Homo sapiens: one gene and its partners. The protein of the gene in region 1 purifies or fractionates together with the protein of each later gene. This does not show direct contact. Each region holds a gene or a part of one and is shown in the gene's direction. Other genes may lie near its edges.

Region 1 (3,500 bases):
GTCTGGGTCCTTCCTGCCCAAAGGGTCACTTGGGCTGGAAAAGCAGGCTTGCTCTATGCTTGCTCCAAAGCCTTATACCACCTTGGAGTTGCTGCAGGCACAGGGGGCCTGATCATCTGTGGGCAAAGGAATCCCTGGGCACCACTCTTCTGAAATGAACCGTCAGGGACTGCAGATCTACATACCACCTACTCACCCCTACTGCTGCCCTGTCACTTGGTAGTCCCTCAGGCTTGATGGGCACAGTCTGGGGGACTTGAATCCATCTTTCTCCAAGGCTGCAGGCTTCCAGAACTATGGGGCTAGAAGTCAGGGACTTGGCTTTTCATTCCAGCTCTGCCTCTAGCTTGTTGTGTGACTGTTGGCAAGTCATGAAGAGTGAAAACACACACTTCTCTGTTTCTTTCCCAGGAATATTGCTGTCTGCCATCCCCACGAGGTGACAAGGAGCAGAATGATGGAATTTGGGGGAGTAAAGACAGAGAGGAAGTGCATTAGTCTAGGGAATGTCCTTTGATATGCAGGCCCTTTGGGGCCTCACTTGGGCAGGAACACCCAGCAGGGGAGCAGCCACAGGGGCCTCCTGGTGCCACTGACCTCTGAGCCCATCTCAGCCCATGCCAGGAATACCCTGGCCTCCTTGGTCCTCCTTGAGAGAAGGCCTGGGTTCAGTTCCAACTGCACTCCTTACCAAGTCATCTCATCTCTCAAAGACTCATCATTAAATGGGGGTGTAGGCTGGGTGCCGTGGCTCACACCTATAATCCCAACACTTTGGGCGGCCAAGGCAGGTGGATCACCTGGGGTCAGGAGTTTGAGACCAGCCTGGCTAACATGGTGAAACCCCATCTCTACTAAAAATACAAAAATCAGCCAGGTGTGGTGGTGGGCACCTGCAATCCCAGCTACTCAGGAGGCTGAGGCAGGAGAATCGCTTGAACCCGGAAGGCAGAGGTTGCAGTGAGCGGAGATCGCACCACTGCACTCCAGCCTGGGCGACAGAATGAGACTCCATCTCAAAAATAAATGAGTGAATGAATGAATGGATGAATGGAGGTGTGACCACCTACCTCCCAGATCTTTTGTGAGGATTAAATGTATAAGAGTCTTTTGTAAACACCTTACCAAAGTAGACCGTTACACTGTTGGTCCCTTCATTTGAGAAAGGACTGCCTTTTCTGCCTCACCATCCCCTGGCCTTCTTGGCAGCACTCTTCCCTTTCTGCAGGGCTGCAGCAGCTCCCTCTCATCCCTGGCTGGAGGGATAGGGAACCGGGTGCGGGTGGGAGCAAACCTGCAGTTCCCCCGACGTCCTCACACCTTCTACCCGACTTGGACCTTTGGGCAACTTAAGAATTCTTCAGACCCTTTCTCAGAGTCGTCCTGCTGTTTGGGACAGTACATTTGACGTTTTCCCTTTATTTTCTGAGCACCTACCAGTAGCTTGCTTAGCTGCATGGTGAGGGGATGGGATAACAAAGGTATCTAGGATTCTATCCTTGGCCCTGGGAGGTCATGCCTCGCAGTGTTCTGGGAAGACCCCCACCACTTTGGGAGTTTCAGGGAGAGACGAGGCAGGACTGGGGGTGCCCAGAGCTGCTCCATGGCCAGTAGCCGAGGTGAGCCACGGGTTTCCATCCCCAACCCCAGCTCTCAGCCATACCCAGCTGCCACTGACTAGGCTGCTCAGGGGCAGGGCCGGCCGGGCAGAGGGTGTGGAGGAAGAACGCAACAGTGAGTGTGCAGCCAGCATGGACGTCAGAGCCAGTTCTGGGCCAAGGAATGGGGCAGAAGGATGTGTTTGTCCAGTGCTAATTGAGGGCACAGGGACAGTGTGACTGTGGGTCTGGAGGGGGGCTCTCATTACTCGGTGAGATAGACAGGTGAGCTGGAAATCACACGGTCACTCCCAAGTGGCCTGGTAAGTGTGTATTTGCTAGAAACCATCACACCACCATAATGGACTGGGGGCTCTGTAAACAGTGATGATTTCTTTCATCGTTTCTGGGTGTGGGTGTCTAAATAGGGCTGCTTGGAGCTGGGTATCTGTGCAGTTGGGGCAAGGGAAGCAGGTGCAGAGTCCTGGAAGGGAAATGACCACTATATCCATTGCCAACTCAATCTAAGGTTGTGAATGGGGGAAATCTTGGTTTAGCTGATTGTGCTAAGAGGTGGCCAAGACTCTTTGTTGTGGGGACTCTTATCAGCTCAACCAGTCATCTTCCTGCTTATGACCATTTGAGCACTCTTGTTTTATTACTTTTTTTTTCTTTTTGAGATAGGGTCTTGTTCTGTCGCCCAGGCAGCAGTGTAATGGCGTGATCACTGCAGCCTGGACCTCCTGGGCTCAAACAGTCCTCCTACTTCAGCCTCCTGAGTAGCTGGGACTACAGGCACGTGCCACCGTGCCCAGCTAATTGTTTAAAAAAATTTTTTGTAGAAGTGGGGTCTTGCTATATTGCCCAGGCTGGACTCAAACTCTTGGGCTCAAGCAATCCTCCTGCCTCAGCCTCCCAGAGTGCCGGGATTACAGGTGTGAGCCACCATTCCAGGCCGGCACTCTTGTTTTAGAAAAAGATTTATTCTGGCCAGGCACAGTGGCTTATGCCTGTAATCTCAGCACTTTGAGAAGCCGAGGTGAGCAGATCACCTGAGGTCAGGGGTTCAAGATCAGCCTGGCTAACATGGCAAAACCCCATCTCTACTAAAAATACAAAAAATAGCCAGGCATGGTGGTGGGTGCCTGTAGTCCCAGCTACTTGAGAGGCTGAGGCAGGGGAATCGCTTGAATCGGGAGGCAGAGGTTGCAGTGAGCCAAGATCATGCCACTGCACTCTAGCCTGGACAACAGAGTGAGACTCAGTCTTTAAAAAAAAAAGTTATTCTTGCTGTTCTCTACAAATAGAGATCCCCTAGACCAAGGTGAAAGCTGTTGGCAGGGTCTTGCATTGGGCTTGGGGGAGAAAACAGGGTTTCCTACCATTCTACACATGATTTATTCATTGTGCTGAGTCCTGGAAAGAACAGTGTCTAGGAATCCAGCCACCTGGTTGTTGCATTGGCCCTGCACTTACTGGTTATGTGAGACCCTGGACTTCATTTCCATACCTCTAAAATAAGTGGTTTGCATTAAATTATCTTAAAGCCCCTTTTGATTCTGACAGTCTGTGGTTCTCAGCCCTGTGGCCTTAAATTCTCCTTCCTCTCTCTATACTTTCTGACTCTGACTTCCCTTTACTGCTCAATGCAAAGTTCCTGGACCTGGGTCTGCTCATCCCAGTTTCTGACAGAATACACATGAGGTGTCACCATCATTGGGGAGGTGAGGGCTTTGAGGCAGCAGGAAGGGACTAGTCATTTGTTTCCACAATGAAGCCCTGGGGTTCAGAGTACCAGAGCCTCAGTGGAGGTCAGCAGATGTCCCTCCCTCCTTGGAATGGCAGCCCATCCCAGGAGATGTCCTGACAACACCTGTGTACCCTGCATAGGGTCCCTGATGG
Region 2 (3,500 bases), on another chromosome or scaffold:
GTGTACCACAGTAGTAGATGTTAACAATAGGGAAAAATAGGTATGGGGCAAACAAGAACTTTCTGTGCTATCCTTATAATGTTAATATTTCTTTTTCATTTTCTCTTATCCAGGGAGCAGATTTTAAGAGTAAAAGAAGATGAGAATGTTCCATTTCTACTGGTTGGTAACAAATCAGATTTAGAAGATAAAAGACAGGTTTCTGTAGAAGAGGCAAAAAACAGAGCTGAGCAGTGGAATGTTAACTACGTGGAAACATCTGCTAAAACACGAGCTAATGTTGACAAGGTAACACGTGACTCTTTACTACTGCATCATGTTAAAATAGGTTGGTTTGCTTTAACTTGGCTCCATTTTGTCTGGAGAGTCTATGAAACTTTCAAATAGAGGTTTAATCCTTGTTGATTTTTATCATCCCTGAATACTCAGATACATGTTAGGAATTTTAGTTCACCTTGTCCTTAGCTTCCCAAGAGACATTAAAACATGAGACACTACAGCTAAATGTACTTTTTTTCTTTTTAAAGCACTGATGGCATTCCTGACTTTTTTCCCCCCTTATCCTATTGAGTCTTTGGATAATTTAGAAGGAATCGTGTGAGTCCCAAGATTCCAGCACTAAACCGTTCTTACCTCTGACCTGACATCTACCCAACCCCACTTAAGTTCTTAAAAATAAGGGTACCTCCCAAGATGAAGAAGCCCCCAGATAAGAGCGTTTTAAAATCTCTCCTGCCACTCTCCACTCCCCACCCTCAACCTTTGTTTTCTCCTGAAAGAGAAAGAAAGGAAAGTAAACACTCTGCCCTCCTTTCTTGTCTTCTCGCTTTGTTCAGAGTGGCCCTTCCTGAAGACCAGATGTGGAACACCTGCAAGTACATTTCATCCCACTGCCCTAGACCAGCTCCAGTATCTAGAAAGACTGCTCACTGGGCTGAGGTAGCACAGAATCTTAAAGGCCTCCAAGTGGGGTCTTTCTTCAGCCTGCAAGTATCTAGGCTCTATAGTGTGCCTCTCAAGCTCCAATAGGCAAAAGAACTGCCTGTAAATCTTGATAAACACACATTCTTGGGTCTTACCCCTAGAGATTTGGATTCATTTGGTCTGGAATGGGGCCTAAGAATTTATGATTCTAGCAAGTGCTGCATGTGCTTGTAGATTTATAACCCTGATCCAGAAAGTACTAGGTTAAAAAAAAAGTTTGAGATTTGTTCTGTTATTTTGCTGTAGGTCTTAAGACAGTGTCGTTGCTGTCTTAAGCTTCTTAACTTTTTAAGACATTGTCAGATTCCTTTAGGTCTAAGATATCTGTACAAAGTGAGTACTACAGGATTCTATTCAGGATACGAATTTTTTCTAAGGTTAGGACTAGGGCAAGTGTGTGTGTGTGTGTGTGTGTGTGTATGTGTGTGTATGTGTGTTTTGCTTAAATAACAAAGTTATTTCTCACAGTTCTGGAGGCTGGCGAGTCCAAGATCAAGGTCTTAGACAAAATGATTCTGGAGAGGGCTTTCTTCCTGATTTGCTGGATTTCCTTATACCTTCCTGCTGCATCCTCACATGACAGAGAGAGAGAGATAGCTCTCCTGATTCTTCTTAGGATACTAATTCCATTATGACAACCCTACCCTAGTGACGTAATTACGACCCAAAGGCCCCATCTCTTATTGCCATCACATAAGGAATTCGGGTTTCAGTATATGAATTTTGGGGTGACACAAGCATTCAGTCCATAGCATGCCCTATCATAGTTTCCTGGGAACCATGGTTTCTGAACACAGTAACTAGGGCTTGGGTATTTCAGTTAGCTTCCATTTGGAAATGGGAACAAGAATACCTGCTTCATAGGATTATTGTAAAGATGAAATGAAATCACATATGTAAAATGCCCAGCCTGTGCCTGCCATTTCTAAGTCATTAGAAAATTATAGATTTGAAGAGACAATTTGTATGGCAAATATTTTTAAAATACTAATGAAAATATATGTTAAGATTGAGGGTGTTTGAGGTTTTAAAAGGCAACGTTGAACATTCTCATAGCATATATATACTTTTCTAATCGATGTTTCGAGTAGGTTGTAGAACACACTATAAAAACTATTTGAACCTAAGGGGAGTGGGGAAGAGATGCAGACACTGGCAATCCAAGATAGAAAGCTATATTGTAACAGTCCTTGTGGTGATCATCTGTTGGCATCAGAGGCCCTGGGAAGTATGGTGTCTGTATTAGCACAGCTCTTACAGGACAAAAGCCTAGGGAAAATGGCCCAAAAACAGCAACTGGCATGTCGTAGAAAGGAAACACAAATGGCCTTTAAACTGGAAGAGAGGCTCGGTCTCACTTATAAAAAGGGAAGTACAACTTTAAAATATAGTGGAATGTCCTTTTTTTACCCGTCACTTTGGGAGAAAAAAAGCAAAGAGGTTGAGAATAGAATATACTGTTAGCAAGAGTATAGAAAAACAGGAACCTCTCATATGTTGGTGGAAGGGCAGTTTTGTGATACCCATCAGAATTATGACCCAGCAATTTAAGTGCTAAAAATGTTATTTTTTTTTTTTTTTTTTTTTTTTTTTTTTGAGACGGAGTCTCGCTCTGTCGCCCAGGCCGGACTGCGGACTGCAGTGGCGCAATCTCGGCTCACTGCAAGCTCTGCTTCCCGGGTTCACGCCATTCTCCTGCCTCAGCCTCCCGAGTAGCTGGGACTACAGGCGCCCGCCACCGCGCCCGGCTAATTTTTTGTATTTTTAGTAGAGACGGGGTTTCACCTTGTTAGCCAGGATGGTCTTGATCTCCTGACCTCATGATCCACCCGCCTCGGCCTCCCAAAGTGCTGGGATTACAGGCGTGAGCCACCACGCCCGGCCTAAAAATGTTATTATACAGAACAAATTATGCACTCACGTATACGTGTATGTTCAGTGGTAGTCAGTGAAGCATTATTTTTAGAAGCAAAAGACTGGAAATATCCAAGTGTTCAGTAATGGACTGGTTTAAATAATGGAGTTTTGCCCAACCATTAAAAAGAAATGAGGATAGAACTAAATGTGCTGATATCAGATGATCTTCAATTATAAAGTAAGTGAAACAAAGTACAGAGTGGTGTCTGTAGCTTGCTGCCATGTGTTTTAAACACACATACATACACATTATCTATGTACACATCATAAGGATATGTAAGACTCTGGTACCTGTGGTTGCCTCCAGAGAATTAAGCCACAGTTTATGCTTTTTTCACTGTAAATACCCTTGTGAACTTTTTGCCATATTCATGGACACTTGGCCCTCAAACAACACAGATTTGAGCTGTGCAGATTTTTTTTTCACAGATGCAGTCTGCCTCCATGTCGGTGGGCTCTGCATCCACAACCAAATGCAGACAGAGAATACAGCAGGATGTGAAACCTGCATATGCGGAGGGCTGGCTTTTTGCATCCATGTGTTCTGCAGGGCCAGCTGCGGGACTTGAGTAGGTAGAGATTTTGGGATCCACGGGCAT
Region 3 (3,500 bases), about 210 Mb from region 1:
AACAGGGTGGTGAGTAGCTAGGGGTGACAAAGGGCCTCTCTCGGGATGAGGCCTAAGTGAGGCCAGGATTGGGTCCTGTGGGCCGTGGGGTGAGCAGAGGGCAGGGGCTTGGCAGGTGCAGAGGCTCTTCAGGCAGGAGTGTGGTGGGAAGGTGCGCCCAGCAGCCAAGCCAGTGTGGCCAGAAAAAGTGTGGGGAGGGGAGGCCACAGCGGAATGGAGCAGGACTAGGAGAGGAGGCCATGGCGGAATGGGGCAGGACTAGGAGGGGAGGCCGCGGTGGAAGAGGGCAGGACTAGGAAGGGAGGCCACTGCAGAAGGGGGTAGGACTAGGAGGGGAGGCCACAGCAGAAGGCGGATAGGTCTTGGTGCGTTTGGTGGGTTTTCTTCTGATGAGATGAGATGCCGTTTGGGGGTTTGAAGCAGAGGAGTAATACGATATGACTTATATCCATTCAGCTATTGTGTGGATTCTTTGGTATCTATTAAATGAAAAACAAAAACCATACCGATTAGGTAAGGTTGAAAAAAGCTGTCTTCATCTGCACCACTCTATTGAAACTGCTCCTGCCAAGGAGACGGCCTCGCCATTCCAGATGCGGCAGACCCTTGTCTGTCTTCATGCTGCTCCCTGGCCCTGGAAGCAGCACCGCTGCCCCTCTTCTCCACTCCCTTCTCCTGGTTCCATGCCCTCCTCCTCCCCCACTCTCTCACTCCTCCACCAGCTGCTGCCTTCTGGGGCCGGGCTCTCTTTTTCTGGTTCCTTCTGCCTGCTGCTGGGCTCTGGCAGGCACAGTGACCCCGGGCAGTGTCTCGTCCGTTGAATTCAGTTTCTTGAGGACGTACCTAGTCACACAGCTGTGGATAGCGTGGATACCACCGTAGGTCTTGGCCCAGACCTTTACCCTGCACACCCAGCAAATATCCCTCGGCTGCCTCTTGCAGTGTCTCTGTGCATTGACCTTCCCACCGGTGATCCCCAGCTCTGCCTCTTCTGTCCTGGCTGGTGCTGGCCACCCGGGAATCTCATCCTGCTTGGGTCTGTCCTCCACCACCCACCCCCTGCTGCTTCTCATCACTGCAACGCCCAGTTCCTGGTACAGGCCTCATATCCAGCGTGCACTCAGGAGATGTATCTGGAGTGAGTGACTTTGATTTCTTTTAGGGCTATAAATTCTACAAAATTCAGAGATGATTTTGTAATGAGAAGTGCTGTTGTATCATAATTCTGATTATTTATAAATCAAGATTGGAGTAATTTGAGGGTCTTTGACTTGTGAAAATGCAGGAAACATGAGTAGCTATTTGGGGATCTGCCTTTTGTGTTAAGTCTCGAGCCCTTGGCCTGAGCCTGCCCTGTGCTGCTTCCTGCCTCTACCCAGGATGCTCTGTGCAGACTGCACCAACACTTTGCCTCTCGAGGGCCTGGAGGCACAAGGATGGCCGGGGCACTCAACTTCCCTCTCCTCAACGTTTGGATGTAAATTAGGAAGTTGGTGCCTACAGATGGCAGCTCTGTTCTTGGCCCTGTGATGTTGGTGTTCTTAGGCCGTTGGTGCTTACCTTCTTTCTCTGCCTGATGGGATGTGAGTGATACAGTAGTCTCCTAGGATGACCAGAGGGACAGCTGGCTCACTGCACATGTCACTAAAAGTTCACTGATCAAAATGTAAACAGAATGTGTAATAAGTTTACTTCTGGCCAGGCAGCGTTCACGTCTGTAAACCCAGCACGTTGGGAAGCTCAAGTGGGAGGATTGCTGGAGCCCCGGAGTTCGAGACCAGCCTGGGCAATATAGTGAGACCCCATCTCTACAAAAAATTTAAAAATTATCTGGGTATGGTGGTGCATGCCTATAGTTTCAGCTACTTGGGAGGTTAAGGTGGGAGGGTCACTTGAACCTGGGAGGTTGAGGCTGCAATGAGCTGTGTTCACGCCACGGTACTCCAGCTTGGGCGACAGAGACTCTGTCTCTCAAAAGAAGTTCACTTCTGTTTGATGTTTTTAGTACAGCATTAATAAGCAAAAAATAGGTTTACATTAAAAAAAACTAGTCATTCTACTTAGTTTGTTAATTCCTGCCCCCCTGTTAAAATAGTATTTGCAAAATCAGTTTTCTAGTTAGTGGAATGGATACTGAAGGGTGAGCAAGGTAGGCACACTGTGGGGTCCTCATGTCAGACTGAGGAGACGGGAAGGGTCAGGTCAGCCCTTAGCTGGCTGTGTGACTTGGGACAAGTCACTTTATCTGCCTGTGCCTCCATATGTAAGATTATGGCAGTGAGGTAGAGTGCTAGGCCATGTGTATTGAAGGAAAAAACAAATATAAATTTCATATATTATATTCCATATACTGACTACTGTATAAAATGGTGTTAATCTAAAAGTAGCTTACTGAAATGATTGGCTCTCTAGAAAGTCTTTTGAAAGGAATCTAGCAAATCTTCCATTAGAAAGTAAAACAAACAACAAAACCCGCTTTCCTTGTCTTTTTTTTTTTTTTTTTTTTTTTTTTGAGTCAGAGTTTTGCTCTTGTTGCCCAGACTGGAGTGCAGTGGCGCAATCTCAGCTCACTGCAACCTCTGCCTCCTGGTTCAGGCGATTCTCCTGCCTCAGCCTCCTGAGTAGATGGGATTATAGGCATGCACCACTATACCCGGCTAATTTTTTGTATTTTTAGTAGAGACAGGGTTTCGCCATGTTGGGCAGACTGGTCTTGAACTCCTGACCTCAGGTGATCCACCTGCCTCGGCCTCCAGAAGTGCTGGGATTACAGGCGGGAGCCACTGCGCCGGCCTTCCTTGTCTTTCTGAGCCATTACTAGGAGATGGAAGTAAAGCACAAAGCACTGCTTTTGGCCTCTGAATAAATATTCTGCATCCTGGAGACAATGGCCAAGGGTTACAGTGCCTACTCCAGGTGGACAACACATTTCAACCTGAGGGCCGTGAGTTTGCTGATTGACAGGGCGACCGACCAGAAATTAGAGGGGTCCTCTGAGGTGTCTGAATGTAGAAGTTTCTCTGAGTCATTGAAGTCAGCTGATTATTCCCTGTGCAGCCATTTTTGTTGCAAAGTCAGTGTGTGCTTTGCTGTGAACTGTGGCAAGGGCCATCAAACATTGGTTTATTCCGAGTAATTTTAACTTTAGGACAGGGATGCGTAGGTGATGGAGACCAAGAGGAGAAAATAAAAGTATATTTCTGAGAAGAAAATGATTGTTGTAATACCAGAGACTCACCATTTCATAACCAGGTCAGAAGGATCCCTTGAGAGGGACTCAGCCACTCACCTGTCACTGTGCCCCTGGGCAAGGGGCCTAACCTCTCTGAGCCTCTGTCTCCTTGTTGTAAAGCAGGAAGAAAATAGAAGCTACCTCATAGGACTGTTGTGGGGATTAAATGTGGGAATAATTTGAAAGGCTCAGAACCATGTGTATATATCATAAGTACTAAAGTTTTAGGGACTATGTTATGATACTGTTTATGGTATATTATTATACT
Region 4 (3,500 bases), on another chromosome or scaffold:
AAATTTATTCAAAGTACATTAGAAATAATGAGTGATAAAACTGCATTAATTTGCCATGTGATTTACTGTGGGCAGATATACATATCCCATGTGATGCTATGCCCCCTTAAAGTTTAGGGTACTTCATGGGCTCAGTTACTGCTATAAAAGTTATCTAGTGATCATTATGGCTAGAGCCATCATTCTAAACAAACAAAAATATTATTCCTCAGAGAAAAAGAATACTGTTCATCAACAATTATGAAAATATGATTTTTAAAAAATATTTCAAAATGTGTGTGTGTCCTTGATATAGCTGTTCTTTTTGGGCTTATATTTATTGTTTAAAGAGAAGTCGAATATAGACTTGGTTCAACATGCTGGGTTTTTAATATGCTTTATCTTTTTTTTACTTACAACTTTTTTTTAAGCTGGAAAATCAAATCGCCATAACAAAGATTTGACTTTCTCTGCAGAGAAAAGTCACTGTCTTTCTCTTTCTCACTATGGCAGTTTTAGGTACTATTTTAATTAATTTTAATAAATTTGATTTTAAATAATACTCTTCCCTTTGGAATTCCATAATCTACGTTTCCCTCCAGAATGGTGAAGTACAAGAAATTACTTTTATTAGAGAGGCATTATTTATAGAGAATACAGAATATTTTGAAGTTGGCATTCCCTAATAGAGAAAAGCTTAAGAAAAAAATCTCTGTATTCAAATATGGAAATTTTGAATTTTTTTAGAACATATGTTTAAGAACAATTTAAGAGGTCAGTTGAATAGTAAGAATTTTAACCTCCTATTCATTAAGTAGGAATAGCTCTTTTGCTCTGCATCTTACATACAATAGTAACATGGGCACAAAGACACTTGGAGATAGCATAAACAAGTGACCTAAACCTCTCTGAGCTTCAGTTTCCTCATCAGTAAAATAGGGAGATAATAATTCTACCTATTGCCCTATTTCAGAAGGTTGTTGAGAAGATTGAGATAATGAATTTAAAGGAGTAATTTGCCCAAGTCATCCAGCTTTCGTTGGTAAAGCCAGGGATGAAACCCAGGTCTTGCAGACCATAAAGCACCCAGTCTTAACATTGAATAGTTAAGTTATGATAGTTACCTCAACAGATTCATCAGGATTAAATGAGGTTGCAGTGAGCCGAGATCACGCCATTGCACTCCAGCCTGGGCAACAAGAGCAAAACTCCATCTTAAAAAAAAAAAAAAGAAAGAAAAGATAAATTCTTAGCATGGTGTTTGATGTATAGTAAAATCACTTAATAAATGTGAGCAATTATTCTCTGTTAACTCTGAGACCTAAAGATATCAGAGATTTTGAGGATTATCCAGTTCAACCCACACATTTTACAGATAAAGCTAGGGCCCTGAGAGGGTAAGAGCTTGCCTGTAAAGGAAGTTTCCATTATAATTAGATGGAACAAGGGTTTCTGACTCCCCAGTGCAATGCTGAGGCCTCAGTGCTATTTTTTGCCAACATAGACTCAACTGGAGCTGGAGTAAATGCCTGTGCTTGTGAGGTAAAATTGGACTGTGTTCCTCAGAATCCTTTCTGAGCTCCTGTCTTTTCTGCTAGTCTCCATTGGATAAAATGTGCTTGTTATTAGAGAGGTATTTTCAGATGTCAGAGCTGAGGAAGGGGGGAAAGGTTTTTGTTCACTGTTAATGAGACATGACCTTTTCTTTCTTAAAGGAGAAAAGGCTTCTGGCCTCCCCCTAGGCTGTAGATGAAAAATACTCATTTTAAGAAACATTTAATGATCAACATGTATTCACCTAGAGTTTGTCAAGATTAGTACAGTGTTTTCTACCTGAGTGCTCATGATTGCAGATCACTTCTGCCTAAAGTCTATGTAAGTTACTGCTAAACCACAATGTCCTGGTAGAAGACATCAGGTATTAGGCCACCAAAACTGTGGCCCAAGTGCTATTTTTACCAGTAGTGTTCTGGGATATTATGAGTTCTGAGTTACAAGAATTTTTTCACAGTTACTTGCAGGTGATATTTTTAAATGCTGTCTTTGTAGTTGCATGGACCCTTTGACATGACGTGTTAATTTGGATGGGAATATTTAATTGATATTTGATATAACATGACTTGTCTTCCATTGATTTTCAGTCATGTAAATATTTTACTTTTTCTTCTAAAAACGTATAAGTGAAGAGAATGTATGATACTGTTAATGAAAAATAGAAATGAAATTTAAATTTTAGATGTATATTATATGCATTTTAAAGAAATAGTATTATATAGATATCAGAAAGATATGTAGTTGTATTTGTGCTGAATCTTTTCTGCCTTTGTTATATATAACATATATTCAAATCCAAATAAGTATATTTAAAATAATAAATGTTCATTGTATATATTTTAGAATTTACACAAAAATTGGTCTTTTAATGTCATCCTCATAGTTCTTGTGCAATACTGTTTTAGTCCATTCCCAGAAGTTGCAGAATCAGTTCAGCAAGAACTAGAATCTTACAGAGCACAGGAAGATGAGGTCAAACGACTTAAAAGCATTATGGTAAGATTCTATTTGCTTTCTAAGAATTATAGGAAAGAGGAGGATTATCTGTTAGATAAAGAGATTTGGGTTTTTTTCCTTATAAAAATTGAAGGCCATTTAATGCTTTTATAACAAAAATATTTTCAACTTGCGTAAGTGATCAAAAAGAAATCTAAATATTGAGAAGAGAAAAAATAATATATGATTTGAAAAAATATATAATGTAGCATCATTTTAGAGATGTATGTTCCAATGCTGCTCATTCTACCATACTTCGATGTAACTTCAGATTTCAGCTCTACTGTTTATTGCTGTGTGACCTATGGCACGTCTCTGGGCCTGTCTCCTTATCCAAAAATGCCAGCTGATCATTTAGACATCTAACCATTAGACTGGCGATTACTAGAACTTTTATGTAACATTAAAATATATATGCTTGCACCTCAGAGGAGGAGAATTACTATTCTAGGTGACTTAAAAATCTTACGGTATATCAATAATCTTAGGATATTTGCTCCAATCTTAGGATGTGTTGATTTTTATGCTTGTGCCTGGGATTTTTGAGTAGCTATTGAGACCTTTTTTCTTTACAAGGGACTAGAAGGGGAAGATGAAGGAGCCATAAGTATGCTTTCTGACAATACCGCTAAGCTAACATCAGCTGTTAGGTAAGTGAGCAGTATATCCTCTTTGAAGTCTTTCTGTTGATAGGATTTTTTTTTTATTTAACTAAAAAATTGTTAATGTTTTTAACTAGTAGGAAACTGTAGGCAATAGCAAATATAACTTTGAATTTAAAGAACTAAATTGTATTTAGCTAAATGTTTAAGCCGATTTTAGTTCCCTCTTAGATATAGGAGATTATTCATTCTTTCACCAGTTAGAACTGTGTAATAGGGGTAATTTTATGAGGAAAATACTATTAATGATAAAGTAGGGCAAGCGATTATTAATTTTATTATAGATACTGTTTTCTTAACTAAAAGTTA
Region 5 (2,814 bases), on another chromosome or scaffold:
GGGCCCTCGGGACTGAGGGTGGGCAGGGCACCCCATCCCCCAGCATCCCCTCCCCCTTCCTCCTCTGCTCCACCTCAGATCTGACTGGGCTCAGGACTGCGGGAGGGACTGACACCCCTCAGGTGATGGCAACTCCCGGCCCTTGAGGGCGTCACCTGGTCTTGGGGGGAGGTCTGCAGGGAGCACCAGGGTCCTTTGGGGAGAGGTGGGGCTGTGGGGCTTGGGGAGCACTGGGTGGACATTGCAGGGGAGGGGCGATCGTGGGTGCCCAGCCCGACCCTTCCTGCAGCCTCTCCCCTCGCCAACTCCTTGGCTTCCCGTGTGCGGAGGTGTCCGGCCTGAGCACGGAGCGTGTCCGGGAGCTGGCTGTGGCCTTGGCACAGAAGAATGTCAAGCTCTCAACAGAGCAGGTCAGTCTCAGTTGGGCTGAGGCAGGTGGGCACAGCTGGGGCTGAGGAATTCACAGGCAGCTCTGCAGTGCCCACCTTGCCACCACGGTCCCCTCTGTCCCTGCTGCCATCTCTCCCCGGCCAGTTCTTCCCAGAGTTCCTCTGGCCACCCAAGCTGACCACTGGGGTGCCTGTCCACGTCAGGGGCTGGCTCCCCAGGAGCAAGTCTGATATGACGCTGTGTGCTGGGCCCCCTCCTGGAGCGCCGTGGGCAGCCCTCCAGGCTCTGCCCCAAGGGTGAATCTTTTTCGGGGGAGTGGGTGAGATCTGGGGAAGGGGAGCGGAGCCAGGCACGGGAGCCCCCATCCCCCAGGGCAGCGCTGCAGGCGGCCAGAGATCCACTTCCACAGATTCTCGTGGCCAGGGCAGGGGTGTGTTGTGGTGGGCAGACTGGCCAGGCGACCCTGGCCCACCATGTGAGTGGCGGCTCGAAACGCTCTGTGCTGGACTCCCTGCCCCTGCAGCTGCGCTGTCTGGCTCACCGGCTCTCTGAGCCCCCCGAGGACCTGGACGCCCTCCCATTGGACCTGCTGCTATTCCTCAAGTAGGCCCTGCCCCCTGAACCCACCCCCCCGGCTTTTGCCGCCAGCCCTCAGCCCCCAACCCCCTGCCCCTTGCCTCGGATCCCAGGCCACAGCAGAGATGTGGAGGCCGGCCGGGCTGCCTCTCAGGGTGGGGACGGGTGTGATCAGTGCGGCCTGTCCCCAGCACCCTCTCTTCACAGCCCAGATGCGTTCTCGGGGCCCCAGGCCTGCACCCGTTTCTTCTCCCGCATCACGAAGGCCAATGTGGACCTGCTCCCGAGGGGGGCTCCCGAGCGACAGCGGCTGCTGCCTGCGGCTCTGGCCTGCTGGGTAGGGGCTGGGGCCAGCGCGGGGCGGAGAGGGCTCGGCAGTTCCAAAAGCGCTGAGGCCAGCCTCTCTGCAGGGTGTGCGGGGGTCTCTGCTGAGCGAGGCTGATGTGCGGGCTCTGGGAGGCCTGGCTTGCGACCTGCCTGGGCGCTTTGTGGCCGAGTCGGCCGAAGTGCTGCTACCCCGGCTGGTGAGCTGCCCGGGACCCCTGGACCAGGACCAGCAGGAGGCAGCCAGGGCGGCTCTGCAGGGCGGGGGACCCCCCTACGGGTAAGTGAAGGTGTCTGGAACCTCGAAGGCTCACCTGGCGGCGTGGTATCAGCAGCGTGAGGACACTTGCGGCCATGCCTCAAGGCCCAGGGTCAGTCACCCCCGCCACCACCCCTGCCAATGCCCCCAGCGTCCCCTCCACAGCCAGGGGGTACGGCCTGGCCTCTTCCCTCTCTGGGGCTGCACGTGGGGGGTCCCTGAGCTGTGTCCCGTGTCTGCACAGCCCCCCGTCGACATGGTCTGTCTCCACGATGGACGCTCTGCGGGGCCTGCTGCCCGTGCTGGGCCAGCCCATCATCCGCAGCATCCCGCAGGTGAGACCCCAATCCCCAGCCCGTGGGGATGCCCGGCCACCCGAGGCTCAGCCCAGGTCCTGCTCGTCCTCAGGGCATCGTGGCCGCGTGGCGGCAACGCTCCTCTCGGGACCCATCCTGGCGGCAGCCTGAACGGACCATCCTCCGGCCGCGGTTCCGGCGGGAAGTGGAGAGTGAGTGCCGTGCCCTGCGCAGTCTGGCACCAGGCTGGGCAGCACCCCTGGGGGTGGGCATCACTTTAGGGTCTCACCTGCCCCTCCCTGGCTCTGCAGCACATCCCATTATAATCACAGAGAGTGGACAGAATCCCTGTTTGCCAGTGGGTAAACTGAGGCACAGGGAGGGTCACAAATGGCCCGAGGTCTCATCTCACAGGAGGTGTGGGAGGAAGAAGGGGTCAAACGAACTCCGGCCCTGACCCCTGACCCCTGTGCCCTGCAGAGACAGCCTGTCCTTCAGGCAAGAAGGCCCGCGAGATAGACGAGAGCCTCATCTTCTACAAGAAGTGGGAGCTGGAAGCCTGCGTGGATGCGGCCCTGCTGGCCACCCAGATGGACCGCGTGAACGCCATCCCCTTCACCTACGAGCAGCTGGACGTCCTAAAGCATAAACTGGATGAGGTAGTTCATGACTCAAGTTCCCACCGGCCTGCTGTGTCCAAGCCATCCCCAGCCCCTCTGGGAGTGACATGGGCCCTCCTGGTCTCTTGGCCTGCAGCTCTACCCACAAGGTTACCCCGAGTCTGTGATCCAGCACCTGGGCTACCTCTTCCTCAAGATGAGCCCTGAGGACATTCGCAAGTGGAATGTGACGTCCCTGGAGACCCTGAAGGCTTTGCTTGAAGTCAACAAAGGGCACGAAATGAGTCCTCAGGTGACCGTCCGGCTCGGGGGTCATGTGGCATGAGATTGGGAAGGGCTGAGGGGCAGA
Region 6 (3,500 bases), on another chromosome or scaffold:
CAAATGCCCATCAGTGATAGACTAGATAAACAAAATATGGCACATATACACCATGGAATACTATGCAGCCATAAACAAGGATGAGTTCATGTCCTTTGTAGGGACATGGATGAAGCTGGAAGCCATCATTCTCAGCAACCTAACACAGGAACAGAAAACCAAACACCACATGTTCTCACTCATAAGTTGGAGTTGAACAATGAGAATACATGGACACAGGGAGGGGAACATCACACACTGGGGCCTTTTTGGGGATGAGGGGCTAGGGGAGGAATAGCATTAGAAGAAATACCTAATGTAGGTGACAGGTTGATGGGTGCAGCAAACCACCATGGCACGTGTATACCTATGTAACAAACCTGCACGTTCTGCACATGTATCCCAGAACTTAAAGTACAATTTTTAAAAAGTAGGCAAAAACAAAAGAAAAGAAAAGTAATATACAACCGAGACCTAATATTTTAGGCTTGCAACGACAGATATTTTACTATTTAGTCTTTACAGGAAAAGTTTTCCAACTACTGCTTTATAGCAAAAATAATATTGTAGATGTGGAATTTATTGATATAGCAGAGGGGTTTTTAGTAACTGATGACTTAAGCAAGATAAATACAATTTTCACCGATATGTGGTATGCATGCTAATACAGCTTTTTTTAAGCATCTTAATATGATTGTTTATATTACTCCACACACCTCTCAAAAAAACTTAATACCTATTTTTCCTCTCATATCCTCCATATCAGTTAATAGTATCACCTTCCCAACTCCCCACTGCCCCATCCTGTGTTCCAAGCTAGAAGTATTGGGGTTATCCTTTATACTACCATTTCCCTCACCTTCCAGATGCAGGTGGTCACCAGTCAGTTTTGTTAAGACATCAATAGATTATCTTGCTTCCATTTCCTTGGTCACTTCCTTCATCAGATCCTCCTTGCAGTAAACGGGTCTCTCTGGCTTTGGTCTTAGCCCCCCAATAGAGGTAATACATGAAAGAGAATGTATCAACAAATTGTACAGTCTTTTGAGTGACAATATGTGCTAGGTATTTGTTCCATGTAAAATTACTTCATTTGAATCCCATGATGATAGAGTTAATATGAACAATCATATTTTGTTTTTTTTTATATCCAGGTTATGAAAACCAGGCTGGCTGTAGGCAAAACTGGGCAGTACTCTGGAATATATGATTGTGCCAAGAAGATTTTGAAACATGAAGGCTTGGGAGCTTTTTACAAAGGCTATGTTCCCAATTTATTAGGTATCATACCTTATGCAGGCATAGATCTTGCTGTGTATGAGGTGAGTTTGTAGAAATCTTTTGAATTGGAAAATGCAGTTAGATCTTGTTAGAATTGGACTTTATATGAAGAAGTAGATATATACCAGAAAACAGTGTGTGACCAGAAGTAAATTCAAGCATGTGTTATTTGAACTTTCAAGTAACTTGAGTGTGAATATGCATGGGGTCACTTTTGTATTAGATTTTCTTGGGAATTGCTTTTGTTAATGAAGAGTAGACTCAAAGTTAGGTATAGTTGTTCACCTTAAAAGGTGTTTCTAGAGATTTTTTCCTTTGTTTTGGATTTGCAAAAATCTGACATTAAGCCAAGTGACTAATGTGACTAACATGAGTAATACAGTTTCATTCCTTGTACGGAAGAATACAAATCTTGGATCAACCCTGCAATCTAAATCATTTAATAATTTATGAATCTCACAAACAATTATTGAGCACACACTATACAAACCACTAGGTTAGACACTGGATCTGGGGATTCAAAGGACTCAATGTGTGCCTTGAAGAAACTGAAGGTCTGGTGGGGGAGACAAACGACTAAAACTCAGCGTGGTTATCTGTGCTGCGACAGACATGAGCCAGGGTGCATGTTAGGATGAGACCTAAGCTACAGCGTAGAGGAAGAGTGGAATGTGTAATGAAAAGAAGAGTCGAATTTTTTTTTTAAAGAGCTTTATTGAGATTTAGTTCATATTCCTTACATTTCACTCATTTGAAGTGTACAAGCAAATGGTTTTTGGCTTCTTACATAATTTTTAAAAATTATTATAAAATATAAAATTTGCCATTTTACTAATTTTAAGTGTACAATTCAGTGGCATTAATTACATTCACAATATTGTGCAACCATCAACACTATTTCCAAATCCTTTTCCTCACTCCAAACAGAAACACCTTAACCTTTAAGCAATAACTTCCTACCCTCCGTAACTCAAACCTTTGGTAACCTCTAATCTGCTTTCTATGTCTAGGAATTTACCCATTCAAGATATCTTATAAGTAGAATCATACAGTATTTTTCTTTTTGTGTCTGATTTATTACTCTTAGCATAATGTCTCTAAGGTTTGTTCATGTTGTAGCATGTATCAGAACTTCATTTCTTTTCATGGCTGAGTAATATTCCGTTATGTGTATATACCACATTTTGTTTAGTCCTTCATCTGTTGAAGAGCATTTGGATTATTTCTACTTTTCCAACATTGTGAATAATGCTGCAGTGAACATTGGCATCTGCGTATCTGTTCGAGTCTATGCCTTCAATTCCTTTGGGTATATATCTCAGAATGGAATTGCTGAGCCATATGGTCATTCTGTGTTTAGCTTTTAGGAACTATCAGACTGTTTTCCATAGTGGCTGCACTTACATTCTCACCAGCAACATACAAAGGTTCCAGTTTTTCCACGTCCTTATTAACACTTAATTTCCATTTTAAAAAAGCTTATTTTTATTATGGCCGTCCTCTTAGGTGTGAGGTGGTATGGTTCAGGACTTTACTTCTTGTGCTGAGTTTTTTAAAAAATTGTGATTAAAAACACATAACATAAAGTTTATGATTTTAACCATTTTTAAATATATAGTACAGTAAGTGTTAACTGTTTGTGGTTTGTTGTGCAACAGATCTCTAGAACTTTTTCACTTCTCAAAACTTAAACTCTATAGTCATTAAACAACAGCTCCCAATTTCCCCTTCACCCCAGCGCTGTGTAACCTACTTTCTCGTTTTATGAGTTTGACTACATTAAATACCTTGTATAAGTGAAATCATGTGGTATTTCTCTTTCCGTGACTGGCTTATTTCATGTAACATAGTTTCCTCATGATTCATCCATATGATAGCATACAACAGGACTTTTTTGTTTTTAAGGCTGAATAATAATTTGTTGGGTATATATATCACATTTTCTTTATTCATCTGTTGATGGACATTTGGATTGTTTCTACATCTTGACTATTGTGAATAGTGCTGCAGTGAACATGGTTGTGCAAATATCTCTTCAAGATACTGTTTTCAGTTCTTTTTGACATATACTCAGAAGTGGAATTTCTGGGTCAAATGGTAATTCTATTTTTAAGTTTTTGAGGAACCTCCATGTCATTTTCCATAGTAACTAGACCTTTTTGTTTTTTAACATTTCTATCAATGTACACCAAGATTCCAATTTCTCCATGTCCTCCCCAACACCATTAAGTGGGGTGGTG

Evidence for each region.
Region 2: the proteins of MPV17 (region 1) and RALA fractionate together in Homo sapiens (co-fractionation; one large-scale study listed by BioGRID). This does not show direct contact.
Region 3: the proteins of MPV17 (region 1) and NDUFA10 fractionate together in Homo sapiens (co-fractionation; one large-scale study listed by BioGRID). This does not show direct contact.
Region 4: the proteins of MPV17 (region 1) and SCFD1 fractionate together in Homo sapiens (co-fractionation; one large-scale study listed by BioGRID). This does not show direct contact.
Region 5: the proteins of MPV17 (region 1) and MSLN fractionate together in Homo sapiens (co-fractionation; one large-scale study listed by BioGRID). This does not show direct contact.
Region 6: the proteins of MPV17 (region 1) and SLC25A24 fractionate together in Homo sapiens (co-fractionation; one large-scale study listed by BioGRID). This does not show direct contact.

Annotation. Positions count from the first base shown.
Region 1 is NC_000002.12:27,313,098-27,316,597, reverse strand, and holds part of MPV17 (mitochondrial inner membrane protein Mpv17), read left to right. Parts: intron 1-3,488; coding exon 3,489-3,500. UniProt on the Homo sapiens protein: Non-selective channel that modulates the membrane potential under normal conditions and oxidative stress, and is involved in mitochondrial homeostasis.
Region 2 is NC_000007.14:39,696,572-39,700,071, forward strand, and holds part of RALA (ras-related protein Ral-A precursor), read left to right. Parts: intron 1-113; coding exon 114-288; intron 289-3,500. UniProt on the Homo sapiens protein: Multifunctional GTPase involved in a variety of cellular processes including gene expression, cell migration, cell proliferation, oncogenic transformation and membrane trafficking.
Region 3 is NC_000002.12:240,001,343-240,004,842, reverse strand, and holds part of NDUFA10 (NADH dehydrogenase [ubiquinone] 1 alpha subcomplex subunit 10, mitochondrial isoform 1 precursor), read left to right. Parts: intron 1-3,500. UniProt on the Homo sapiens protein: Accessory subunit of the mitochondrial membrane respiratory chain NADH dehydrogenase (Complex I), that is believed not to be involved in catalysis. Complex I functions in the transfer of electrons from NADH to the respiratory chain.
Region 4 is NC_000014.9:30,670,819-30,674,318, forward strand, and holds part of SCFD1 (sec1 family domain-containing protein 1), read left to right. Parts: intron 1-2,438; coding exon 2,439-2,529; intron 2,530-3,105; coding exon 3,106-3,179; intron 3,180-3,500. UniProt on the Homo sapiens protein: Plays a role in SNARE-pin assembly and Golgi-to-ER retrograde transport via its interaction with COG4. Involved in vesicular transport between the endoplasmic reticulum and the Golgi.
Region 5 is NC_000016.10:763,734-766,547, forward strand, and holds part of MSLN (mesothelin isoform 1 preproprotein), read left to right. Parts: intron 1-289; coding exon 290-410; intron 411-913; coding exon 914-993; intron 994-1,173; coding exon 1,174-1,303; intron 1,304-1,376; coding exon 1,377-1,570; intron 1,571-1,793; coding exon 1,794-1,884; intron 1,885-1,957; coding exon 1,958-2,057; intron 2,058-2,325; coding exon 2,326-2,504; intron 2,505-2,601; coding exon 2,602-2,757; intron 2,758-2,814. UniProt on the Homo sapiens protein: Membrane-anchored forms may play a role in cellular adhesion. Megakaryocyte-potentiating factor (MPF) potentiates megakaryocyte colony formation in vitro.
Region 6 is NC_000001.11:108,141,344-108,144,843, reverse strand, and holds part of SLC25A24 (mitochondrial adenyl nucleotide antiporter SLC25A24), read left to right. Parts: intron 1-1,133; coding exon 1,134-1,301; intron 1,302-3,500. UniProt on the Homo sapiens protein: Electroneutral antiporter that mediates the transport of adenyl nucleotides through the inner mitochondrial membrane. Originally identified as an ATP-magnesium/inorganic phosphate antiporter, it also acts as a broad specificity adenyl nucleotide antiporter.